3 linked regions of the Homo sapiens genome follow. The protein of the gene in region 2 interacts with the protein of the main gene of each other region in a pairwise test. Each region holds a gene or a part of one and is shown on either strand. Other genes may lie near its edges.

Region 1 (3,653 bases), on a different chromosome or scaffold from region 2:
GTTGTAATATACCAGATTTTACTTCAAATCAATAGCCCCATTCCATTGAGTTATTAGAACATTTTCTAATACAACCTACTCTGCAAATTATTAGCTAGACTTTTTGTATAGCCTTTGCTCATCATTCTTTGACTGTCTATTTTATTTTCTCTAGTATGTGAAATAGCTAAAGTTTCCCATGAATACAGAAAGAGCTTAGAAGTTACATTTGAGAATTTCTGGTGAGAATTTTAAGATGTGAGAGAAATTATGGAAAAATAAAGTATTTTATTATACTTATAAATACCAGAATCAAAATATGAGTGCTACATTTTTAAAAGTTTTATCTGTTATCAAAGTGATACATTATCATAATAGTTTTAGCATTGATATTTAAGAGATTACAAAAACCTTCTTTACCTTCTAGATTGTAGTAACTCTGGATTACTTCAAATTAAGATGGAACAACTTTATACTAGTATCTATGTTTGTTTAAAGCTGGCTTGATATTCAATACATATCTTTGATTCTTATGTATTTAGAAAAATCTACTGTACTAGACTGGACTCTCAGATCTATGGTAGCCAGCCGGATATCCTGGACTACACAGCTCTTCATTCTCTCAGGCTGTAAGAATCCTTAATAAAAAAGGAACAAAAAGAGCAAGACGACTGTTTCTGTAGGAAAACAGTCTTAGGTATTTTCTCTGTCAATGCTTACCACTGAGACTTTATGATGAATTTTCATTCAGACAAGGAGACAGGAAAGTTGGCAGAGGAATATGTACATCTTTTTTGAGCTACTTACTCATGGCTATAAATACAAAGGCAAAAGCAAAATATTTCAAGTGCCATATGATAAAAGACTTTATATAGCGACTAACTTTTTAATGGAACTTTCACATGACTGTAGAGGTGTGACATTTAATTATGTAGAGAATGAAACAATGTTTGTAGAAATCATTTTATCCTGAAACAGAGGTTCTTATTGCTGACTATACTGTAAAACCTTCTATGCAGAGCTGTATTGATGTCTGAGTCCCAACCCAGGCTTAGCCCAAACAGAATTGAATTGCTAGGGGTGAGGCACAGATTCTTTTTTTTTTTTTTTTGAGACAGAGTCTCGCTCTGTCGCCCAGGCTGCAGGCTGGAGTGCAATGGCGCGATCTCGGCTCAATGCAACCTCCGCCTCCTGGGTTCAAGTGCTTCTCCCGGACTCAGCCTCCTGAGTAGCTGGGATTACAGGTGCCCATCACGCCTGGCTAATTTTTATATTTTTAGTAGAGATGGGGTTTCGCCACGTTGGCCAGGCTGGTCTTGAACTCCTGACCTCAGGCGATCCGCCTGCCTTGGCCTCCCAAAGTGCTGGGATTACAGGCGTAGGCCACTGTTCCCGGCCAGATTGTTTATTTGTTTATTTATTTTTATTTTTATTTTTTTGAGACAGAGTCTCACTCTGTTGCCCAGGCTGGAGTGCAGTGGCACGATCTCGGCTCACTGCAAGCTCCGCCTCCCGGGTTCGCGCCATTCTCCTGCCTCAGCCTCCCGAGTAGCTGGGACTACAGGCGCCCACCACCACACCCAGCTAATTTTTTTGTATTTTTAGTCGAGACGGGGTTTCACTGTGTTAGCCAGGATGGTCTCGATTTCCTGACCTCATGATCCACCCGCCTCGGCCTCCCAAAGTGCTGTGATTACAGGCGTGAGCCACCGCGCCCAGCCCAGATTCTTTTTTTAAAAAGCTTCCCAGGTGATTCTAACGTGACTGCTCAGTTAAGAACCACTGCCTCAGAAGAACACGGGACCAAGGAAACCCAAGAAATTATTTCACACTCTACAATTACATTGATATTTAAGAGACAATAAAAACTTTCTTTACTTTCTAGATTGTATAACTCTGGATTAGTTCAAACTAAGTAAGATAGAACAACTTTATACTAGTCTCTATAAATAAACAATTCCGTAAGAGTGTTCAAAGTATGGAAATTATGTTGACTACATTAAATGAACAAATATAAACAACTGTAATTCTAATTGTAACCTTAAAATATTGGCCAGATTAAGAAACAAAAGTGCTCCATGGCCAGGCATGGTGGCTCGCTCCCAGCACTTTGGGAGGCCGAGGCAGGTGGATTACCTGAGGTCGGGAGTTCGAGACCAGCCTGACCAACATGAAGAAACCCCGTCTCTACTAAAAATACAAAATTAGCCAGGTGTGGTGGCACATACCTATAATCCCGGCTACTCGGGAGGCTGAGGCGGGAGAATCGCTTGAACCCAGGAGGCAGAGGTTGTGGTGAGCTGAGATTGTGTCATTGCACTCCAGTCTGGGCAACAAGAGTGAAACTCCATCTCAAAAAAAAAAAGAAAAAGAAAAAAAAGAATCAAAAGTGCTCCTAAACTGGCAGGATGGGCATGGGTGGGGGGGTGGAGGAACACACTATTTTCAGACTTCTTTTCAAATAGTATTTAGGAAAAAGAAATATTTACTCTCTTACTCCATTACACCTAGATTGGATTTCATAACACCTAAAAATGATACAGAAATTCTAAATCTGAAAATACTGTTTGAGGTAAAATCTGCTGTAATTCCAGACATCTGCTTATTAAGATCTACTGAGAATGTTAGCAAAGAGGGTATGGAGGGGGTAGATGAAACAGGAAGAGTAGTTATGCTCTAGAAACCTTTAATGGAACTGGGAAACGTTAGTTTGGGGCCTCCTGCCTGTTGGCAGACATAGCCAACCTCCAAGCACCTCTAATTCCCATCTAACCAACATTACATTGTAGGATGCCTGATAAAGCCAAGCACACAAGAATACTAACAACAGTAAGCACAAATTGTTAATAGACCTTTAAAAAAAATCAGAACCCGGAGAAAGAAAGGAAAAGATTCCTCTCAGTCCATTAAAGACAAACCAAATTTCTAAAAGAAAAAATAAGGTACTCAAAGGACAGGAGAAAGATGGAAAATTATAATGCTAGTACAGACCTAGAATACAGTACAGGCAAGAGTAACTAAAACTTCTGGATACAAGTAAACCAATACTTCTTTCGCAATGGAAGTATACTCCCATGAACACACTACTCAAGTGGGCTAATAAAAACCTTTGCTTAAAGTGCTTGGAGATTTCAGAAAAAATAAAACATCCATGCATGACTGATTTGTAACCAGAGAAGAAATGAATTAGAAAAATATAAAAAATAACTGAACACTCTAAGCACTTTTTCTCCCAATAAAGCAAAAAAAAAAAAAAAAAAAAAAGAGAGAGAGAGAGAAAGAAAATTCCTGCTAGCAAAGGGAAAGCAGAACGGTAAATAAATGCCTATAATCCCAGCACTTTAGGAGGCCGAGGAGGGTGGATCACCTGAGGTCAGAGTTCAAGACCAGCCTGGCCAATATGGTGAAACCGTCTCTACTAAAAATACAAAAATTAGTTGGGCGTGGTGGCAGACGTCTGTAATCCCAGCTACTTGGGAGGCTGAGGCAGAAGAATTGCCAATAAGGGGGAAAAACTCAAATGTCCATGGATAGTCAAATGGATAAAGAAAACATGGACCAGGCACAGTGGCTCACACCTATAATCCCAGCACTTTGGGAGGCCAAGGTGGGCGGATCACTTGAGGTCAGGAGTTCAAGACCCGCCTGGCCAACATGGCGAAACCCTGTCTCTA
Region 2 (3,653 bases):
ACTTGGTGTGTGTCTGTGTGTGTGTGTGTGTGTGTGTGGTGTGGTTTGTGTGTGTGTGTAAATGCAGAGGAAAAAATCTGAAATTAAACACTCAGAACTGCCCTCAGTAGTCACATCTAGGGAGAGAGGAGGGTAATGCTGTTCCATGCAGAGGTAACTGACAATACTTGTTTTCTAAGGTAGGTGCATGGATACACAAACCAAAATATGCATTAAGTATGTCTTGCTCATCAGTGAAAATGTTAATATCTAACAGAATGACACACTTCAAGAAAATACAATGGAAACGCTAATATCGTACTCTTGGCACACTAAGAAAAATGACGCTCAACTTTTCACTGTTGTGAACACTTGCTTTCACTTGCTATGCACCTGATGACGAGGGGTCCACAGCCATGCCCATGTTCGTGAAAGGTCACCACGTTCTGCTTCTCATCATGGGCATGTGTCATATCCCCAAGGCTGAGGCAAGAAGAGAGAAGGAAAGTAAGTGGCAGTGAGTTCCCACCACGTGACAACTCAATCTCAACTCCTCCTGACCTGCAGACCCTGCACACTCCGATTCTGCCCTATCTCAGGACCTGCACACACCTTCCACGGTTCCTCGAAGTGAACCATCTGTTCATGCCACAGTGACTTCCTCGCCTGGGCTATCAATTCCTAGGCTAGAGGAAGGTGTGGCCCGCATATCAGGGCTGACCTGGGGTTTGGGACCCCACAGCATCCTGGGTAGGGAGCATCCCTGGATATATACAGGGCAGGGAGTAGAAAGAGCATGGGAAATCTCATCATTCAGCCTCAATGCTGTACACTAGAAAATTATAAGAAGGGAATGATTTGGGGAGCAAGTGACAGATGGGATGCCAGTATCATAACAGAATAGCACATCTGCAGGGATGCAGGGGATGAGTGGAAGGTTCTCTTACGGAGTTACTCATCATCTTCCTCAGGATCGCTGATCTCTTCATAAATCACCAGCTGCTTTCTCTCACGCAGTCTGTGGGTCCAGGCATGTTCCCCCCTTTTGGGTCCTATGATGGAGAATAGTTGGAAAGTGAGGGTTGGGTAGGTTGGAGAGTGTTAGGCTCTGTTTACTCAAAAAAAGGAGATGCCTGCTTCCTCCCAAGTGCCCATGGGCCTTCTTTATCCAGTTTTTCACATTCTCTGGCTTAGAGAGGCTGAGACCTTAGACCCACACCAATATAGGCCAAATGCCAATTAAAGTTTTAGCTTCTGGCTCCTTCCCTTCTCAGGCTTAGATTCCCAACCTCTTCACTTACGGGAACATTCCCCCATACCTAATTTCATACAGCACGTATTTGTTAAAGCCACACAGGCATACCTTGTTTTGTTGCACTTCATGTTCATACTGCTTCGCAGATGCTGCAATTTTTTTTTTTGGAAATTCTCACCAATTTTACACTTTTCCATTATTATTATATCTGTTATAGTGATCTGTGATCAGTGAGCTTTACTATTATTACTAAAATTGTTTTTGTTGTTTTTTAGTGTTTTAAAATAATTTTTGTTCTTTATTTTGTGGGTACACAGTAGGTGTATATTCTTATGGGGTACATGAGATGCTTTGATACAGGCATGCAATGCATGATAATCACATCATGGAAAATAGGGTATCCATCCTCAAGCATTTATCCTTGCCTTACAAACAATCCATTTATGCTCTTTTAGTTTTTTTAAGTACAATTAAGTTATTATTGACTATAATCACCCTGTTGTGTGTAATTGTTTTGGGGGTACCAGGAACTGCACCCATAGAATATGACAAACTTAATCGATTAATGTTTTGTGTCTTCTGACTGCTCCACCGATGAGCTGTTCCGCGTCTCTCTTCCTTTTCTTGGGCCTCCCTATTTCCTGAGACACAGCAATACTGAAATGAGGATTATTAACAACCTTACAATGGCCGTTAAGTGTTCAAATGAAAGGAAGAGTCGCATGCCTTTCACTCTAAATCACAAGCTAGAAATGGCTAAGATTAGTGAGGAAGCATGCTGAAAGCCAAGACAGGCTGAAAGCTAGGCCTCTTGCACCAAACAGCCAAGCTGTGAATGCAAAGAAAAGTTCTTGAAGGAAATAATAGTATATAATGCAAAGGAAAAGTTCTTGAAGGAAATAATAATACTAATACTCCAGTGAACACACGAATAAGAAAGCAAAACTGCCTTACTGCTCAAATAGAGAAAGTTTGAGTGGTCAGGATAGAAGATGAAACCAGCCACAACATTCCCTTAAGCCAAAGTCTAATTCAGAGCAAGACCAGAACTCTCTTCAAATCCATGAAAGCTGAGAGAGGTGAAGAAGCTGCAGGAGAAACCTGTGAAGCTAGCAGAGGTTGGTTCGTGAGGTTTAAGGAAAGAAGCCGTCTCTATAACATAAAAGTGCAAGGTGAAGCAGCAAACCCTGATGGAGAAGCTGCAGCAAGTTATCCGGAAGATCTAGCTAAGATCACTGATGAAGGTGGCTACACGAAACAACAGATTTTCAATGTAGATAAAATAGCCTTCTATTGGAAGGAGATGCCATCTAGGACTTTCATAGCTAGAGAGGATTGAGTTCAACTTTGAAAGGAGTTCTACTGTGGGTAAAATGCTATCCAATAGCATCACATACTACAGAGAAATCCTTCATGAAAGGGAGAGCTAATCGATGTGGCAAATTTCATTGTTGTGTTCTTTTAAGAAACTGCCACAGCCACTCCAATCTTCAGCAACCACCACCTTGACCAGCCAGCAGCCATCAACACCGAGGCAAGACCCTCCACCAGCAAAAAGAGTGTGACTCACTGAAGGCTCAGAAGATTGTTAGCATTTTTAACAATGAATTATTTTAAAATTAAGGTATATACATTTTTAGACATAATGCTATTGCACACTTAGTAGACTACACTGTAGTGTAAACATAACGTTTTATGCACTGTCAAACAAAAAACAATGTGTGTGACTCACTTTATTGCAGTGGTCTGGAACCGAACCTGCAGTATCTCTGAAGGACACCTGTATTGGGTAACAGGCATTGAGCTGAGTAAGATATGATCCCAGGTTATCACAGATAGAATCGCTTGAGCACCTTTCATGTCATCAGGCCTTCTAGATTAAATTTAATGTCTCCAAACAATTTATGAACTATGATTCTTTATTTCCATCTTATGGACTAGGAACCTGGAGCTGAGGAAATTTGGAAGACTTTCCTCAAGTCACGTGGTTTTTTTTTATATGGATGACAACTCCAGTCTGTCTCTGGAAGTCATGTCTAACATCTCATCTGGAGCTGGGCAAGCTCCTCAGCCCAGCCTGGACCCAGGGTTATCTGGGATCCATGCCACACACCCAGTCCACACACCTGAACGTCGCCAGGGAAGCCAGTGGGATTGTTCCTGAATTGCTTCCTCTTACCAGATATCATGTTAATCTTCTCAGAGGTAGTTGGTTTTCCCGGGGGGCACAGCTGTTTCCCATCGTTTTGTGGGCCAGATGCTTCTGGCACTTCCTTCGAAACATTTCCTTCCTCTGCTGGCTTCTTGGGCATGATCTTTATAATGTGAAGGTCATAGATAAATAGTATCAGTGACATTTCTATAGTGCTTTTGAGCTTACAAAGGGTCTTCACATGCATTAGCTTATTCAATGTTCTCA
Region 3 (3,653 bases), on a different chromosome or scaffold from region 2:
AATTATAGCTTAATAAAACTGGGAGGTAAAAGTAAGTTAAATAAAGATGAAGATAGAAACTTAAAATGGAACATACACACAGAAAAATACCACCTCCTCAAATCTACGCCCATCCAGCCTGAGCTTCCCCTTCAGACACAGTGAAGAGGCTGCCTTCCACTGAGACCCCTAGAATGGCACTGCCATCTGTGTGGGCTCCTGGCCCCGTCCTTTGTTCCACATAGCCACTCCTGCAGCTGCTGTTTCCTGCAGGCTTTGTATTCCAGGTCTGAAAGGCCAGGGACACTGGCCTCTGGGGTTTGCTTTGATAATGACTTAACATGTGACCTGGGGTTAACCAGTAGACTATAGCACAGCTCTCCAAGTCTTAATCTGAGAAAGGAGTACCTTTTGAAACAGAGCTCATTTTTACATGGCTGCACTGTTGGCAGGGGATGTGGCTCATGGCAGAAGCCTGAACAAAGGGTAGTTTCCAATTCCAGGAGAGAAGAGTGGCAGAGTCCCTGGTAGCCCAAAATAAGGCTGGTGAGATGGTCCCAAAGCCACACTTTACATTTTGTATGAGGGTCTTTAGGACACTGTGTCAAATGCTCTTTCAGGAGTACCTACAGTGGTAACAGTTTTTCTTTTTTGTTTAATTTCTGTCTTCAAATTGACAAAAAAAAATTGTATGTATTTACAGTGTACAGTGTAATGTTTTGATATCTATACACATTGTGAAATGATTAAACCAAGCTACTTAGCTGGGCATGGTGGCACACCTGTAGTCCCAGCTACTCAGGAGGCTGAGGTGGGAGGATCCCTTGAGCTCAGGAGTTCTGTTCCAGCCTAGGCAACCTAGTGAGACCAGTCTCTTAAAAAAAAAAAAAGTCAAGCTAATTAATATAATGCATTACCTCATATACCTATCCTTTTTCTGTGTGTGGTGAAAATACTTCAGATCTACCCTCTTAGCAATTTTCAAGTACACAGTACGTTGTTACTGCCTATAGTCACCATGTTGTGCAATAGGACTCCTGAGTTTACTCCTCTCATGTCACTGAAATTTTGTACACTTTGACCAATGTCTCCCCAGTCCCCTCATTCCCTAGCCTCTGGTAACCAGCATTCTGATCTCTGCTTCTATGAGTTCAACTTTTTTAGAGTCCACATTTAAGTGAGAACATGCAGTATTTCTTTTTGTGTCTGGCTTATTGCTCGTAGCATGTCTTTCAGGTTCATTCATGTCGTCAAAAATGACAGGATTTTCCTTCTTTTTTTATGGAGTTCCACAGTAATTCTGATTGCCAACAGCCCTTACTTTTTTTTTTTTTTTTTTTCATTTGAGACAGAGCCATGTTCTGTCACCCAGGCTGGAGTGCAGTGGTGCAGCTGTGGCTCACTGCAGCCTCCATCTCTCAGGCTCAAGCAATCCTTCTGTTTCAGCTTCCCAGTTTTTTTATTTTTAATAGAGATGCGGTCTCCCTATGTTGCCCAGACTGGTCTTGAACTCCTGAGCTTAAGCAATCCTCCCACTTTGGCTTCCCAAAGAGCTAGGATTACAGGCATGAGCCACCACATCCAGACCCTAAGAGTCCTTATAGATTCCTCAACTCTACGGCTTTTTCTTTTTCTTCTTCTTTTTTTTTTTCTTTTTCTTTTTAAGAAACAAATACTCTGTGTTGTCCCTGCTGGTCTGGAACTCCTGGGCTCAAGTGATTCTCCCACCTCAGTCCCCAAAATAAGAATAGCTGAGATTACAGGCATGTACCACCACACACGGCTGAACTCCATAGAGTTTTAACCTTTATTTTCCCATAGTTTGGATAACAATGCTGAGGTCCGGGGACCTACCCGAGGTGAAAGAGTTCATTTAATTGACCGTGCTATCATGAACCCAGGCACACTCTGTTACAGCCCCCCTTGTTATATCTGGAAACAAAGTCGCAGCAATCTTTGTGGTTTACAGAGTACTTTTCATGTGCGTCATTTTGTAATCCTCATTTTACAGTTAAGAACAGAGACTGGGGTTTTATGAAAAGCACCATGAAACAGTTCCCTGTTGGTGCCTCTCTTGTGATTTTCTTTGCTACCAAAATGGAAATGAAGAGCCGCAGGAAGCTCAGAAGGTATCAGCACCAGGCCTGGCCCTGGCCCACTTTAGGACACCATTTTCTGATCTCTTTCAGTTCTGCAAGATGCTTTCCTTCTTCAGGAAGAGAATGTGCGGGACACACAGCAGGTGACCACCCTCCAGCTACCCCCGGTGAGTGGTTTCTACAGGAGTCCTTGAAAATCCCCTGTTTGCCTCTGTAGGCTACAGGGCAGCTTTCTTAGGACCCCAGCCAGCTTTCTGACTGCCACACAGGATGTTCAGTCCCAGCCCAGAAAAGCTAAAATAGGCAGAGCGTGAGCTTAAGAGACGCCCCATTTCTCCTCCTTCCCTGTGGTCCCAGCCGCCCACTGGGTCTACTGTCATCAGGCCACCTTCAGGAAGCTTTGTGCAGACGATAGCAGGAAACAAAGGCCCATGAGTCCCCATTGATGGGCCTCTCAGCATGTCTAAGTTCCCCTCTTGTGAAAAAGGAGATCTCTCTGCTCTTTTATTTTACAGAGAATTTTTCAATTTAATAATCATCGCAGCAATGGTTATATTTTAGAAATGTTAGGAAGTGGAGGGAAGAAAGCACAGATAATTTCAGTCCTGTCACAGATCTACGTGGTGAGTCATTCCAGAATTTCCTCGAATGTTCTCGTTCGTGTTTTTGTGTAAGACTTGCTTACTCGGGTGCTCTGAGGAGTCAGAGTCAGGGCTGGGGGCTGGTCCAGCAGGTGATCTTACTCGCCTCTCTCTAGCCCAGTTGCTGTCTTTGGCCATGTTTTCTGGCCATATCTCCTTCACTTTCCCTCCTAACACTTTCCACTGGCTGGCACAAGATTTAGTTATGACAGCATCATCCCCTCCCATGGGAACAGGATGTGTGGCTCCTGCTTTTGTTTAGTTGCTCCTTACCCAACAGAAAACTGTGAAAAACAGTAGACACTCTTATTACCATGTCTCAGCAGAATGTCGGAAGCTGAGCAGTTTGCTTTCTGCACAGTTCATTTGACATGACTTTATTTTATTTTTATTTTTAGAGACAGGGTCTTGCCTTGTCACCCAGGCTTCAATGCAGTGGCACAGTCGTAGTTCACTGCAGCCTCAAACTCCTGAGCTCAAGCCATCCTCCCACCTCGGTCTCCTGAGCAGCTGGGACTACAGGTGCATGCCACTACACCCAGCTAAGTTTTGTATTTCCTTGTAGAGACAGGGTCTCGCCATGTTGCCCAGGCTGGTCTCAAACTCCTGACCTCAAGTGATCCTCCTGTCTCAGCCTCCCAAAGTGCTGGGATTACAGGCATGAGCCACTGTGCCCAGCCAACATGACTTTAAACTTGGAGAAGGGAGGGCTAGGGATGGGAAGGAGTTAGCCAGGTTACCCAGTTAGGGGGCATCTCCATAACTTGCTTTTGCCCCACCAGAAATGTGGCACACGCCTGTTTACCCTGATGCTCAACACATACATGTCAGCATCTGCTGTGTACTGTGACCATTTCCAAACACAAAGGAGGTAAAACCAGTATTTCTTATTAAAATTTGGACATTTAACCAGTATAACACATAAGGGGATGCT

What was found.
Region 1: the proteins of SSX3 (region 2) and ZBTB25 interact in a two-hybrid assay, tested with the Homo sapiens proteins (one large-scale study listed by BioGRID and IntAct).
Region 3: the proteins of SSX3 (region 2) and ZNF496 interact in a two-hybrid assay, tested with the Homo sapiens proteins (one large-scale study listed by BioGRID and IntAct).

What each region holds. Positions count from the first base shown.
Region 1 is NC_000014.9:64,497,234-64,500,886, forward strand, and holds part of ZBTB25 (zinc finger and BTB domain-containing protein 25), read right to left. Parts: intron 3,221-3,653; exon of another isoform or gene 2,208-3,220; intron 760-2,207; exon of another isoform or gene 700-759; intron 1-699. UniProt on the Homo sapiens protein: May be involved in transcriptional regulation.
Region 2 is NC_000023.11:48,346,574-48,350,226, forward strand, and holds part of SSX3 (protein SSX3), read right to left. Parts: intron 3,550-3,653; coding exon 3,414-3,549; intron 3,015-3,413; coding exon of another isoform or gene 2,968-3,014; exon of another isoform or gene 2,824-2,967; intron 1,876-2,823; exon of another isoform or gene 1,032-1,875; coding exon 931-1,031; 3' UTR 927-930; intron 463-926; 3' UTR 1-462. UniProt on the Homo sapiens protein: Could act as a modulator of transcription.
Region 3 is NC_000001.11:247,321,746-247,325,398, reverse strand, and holds part of ZNF496 (zinc finger protein 496), read left to right. Parts: intron 1-2,168; coding exon 2,169-2,245; intron 2,246-3,653. UniProt on the Homo sapiens protein: DNA-binding transcription factor that can both act as an activator and a repressor.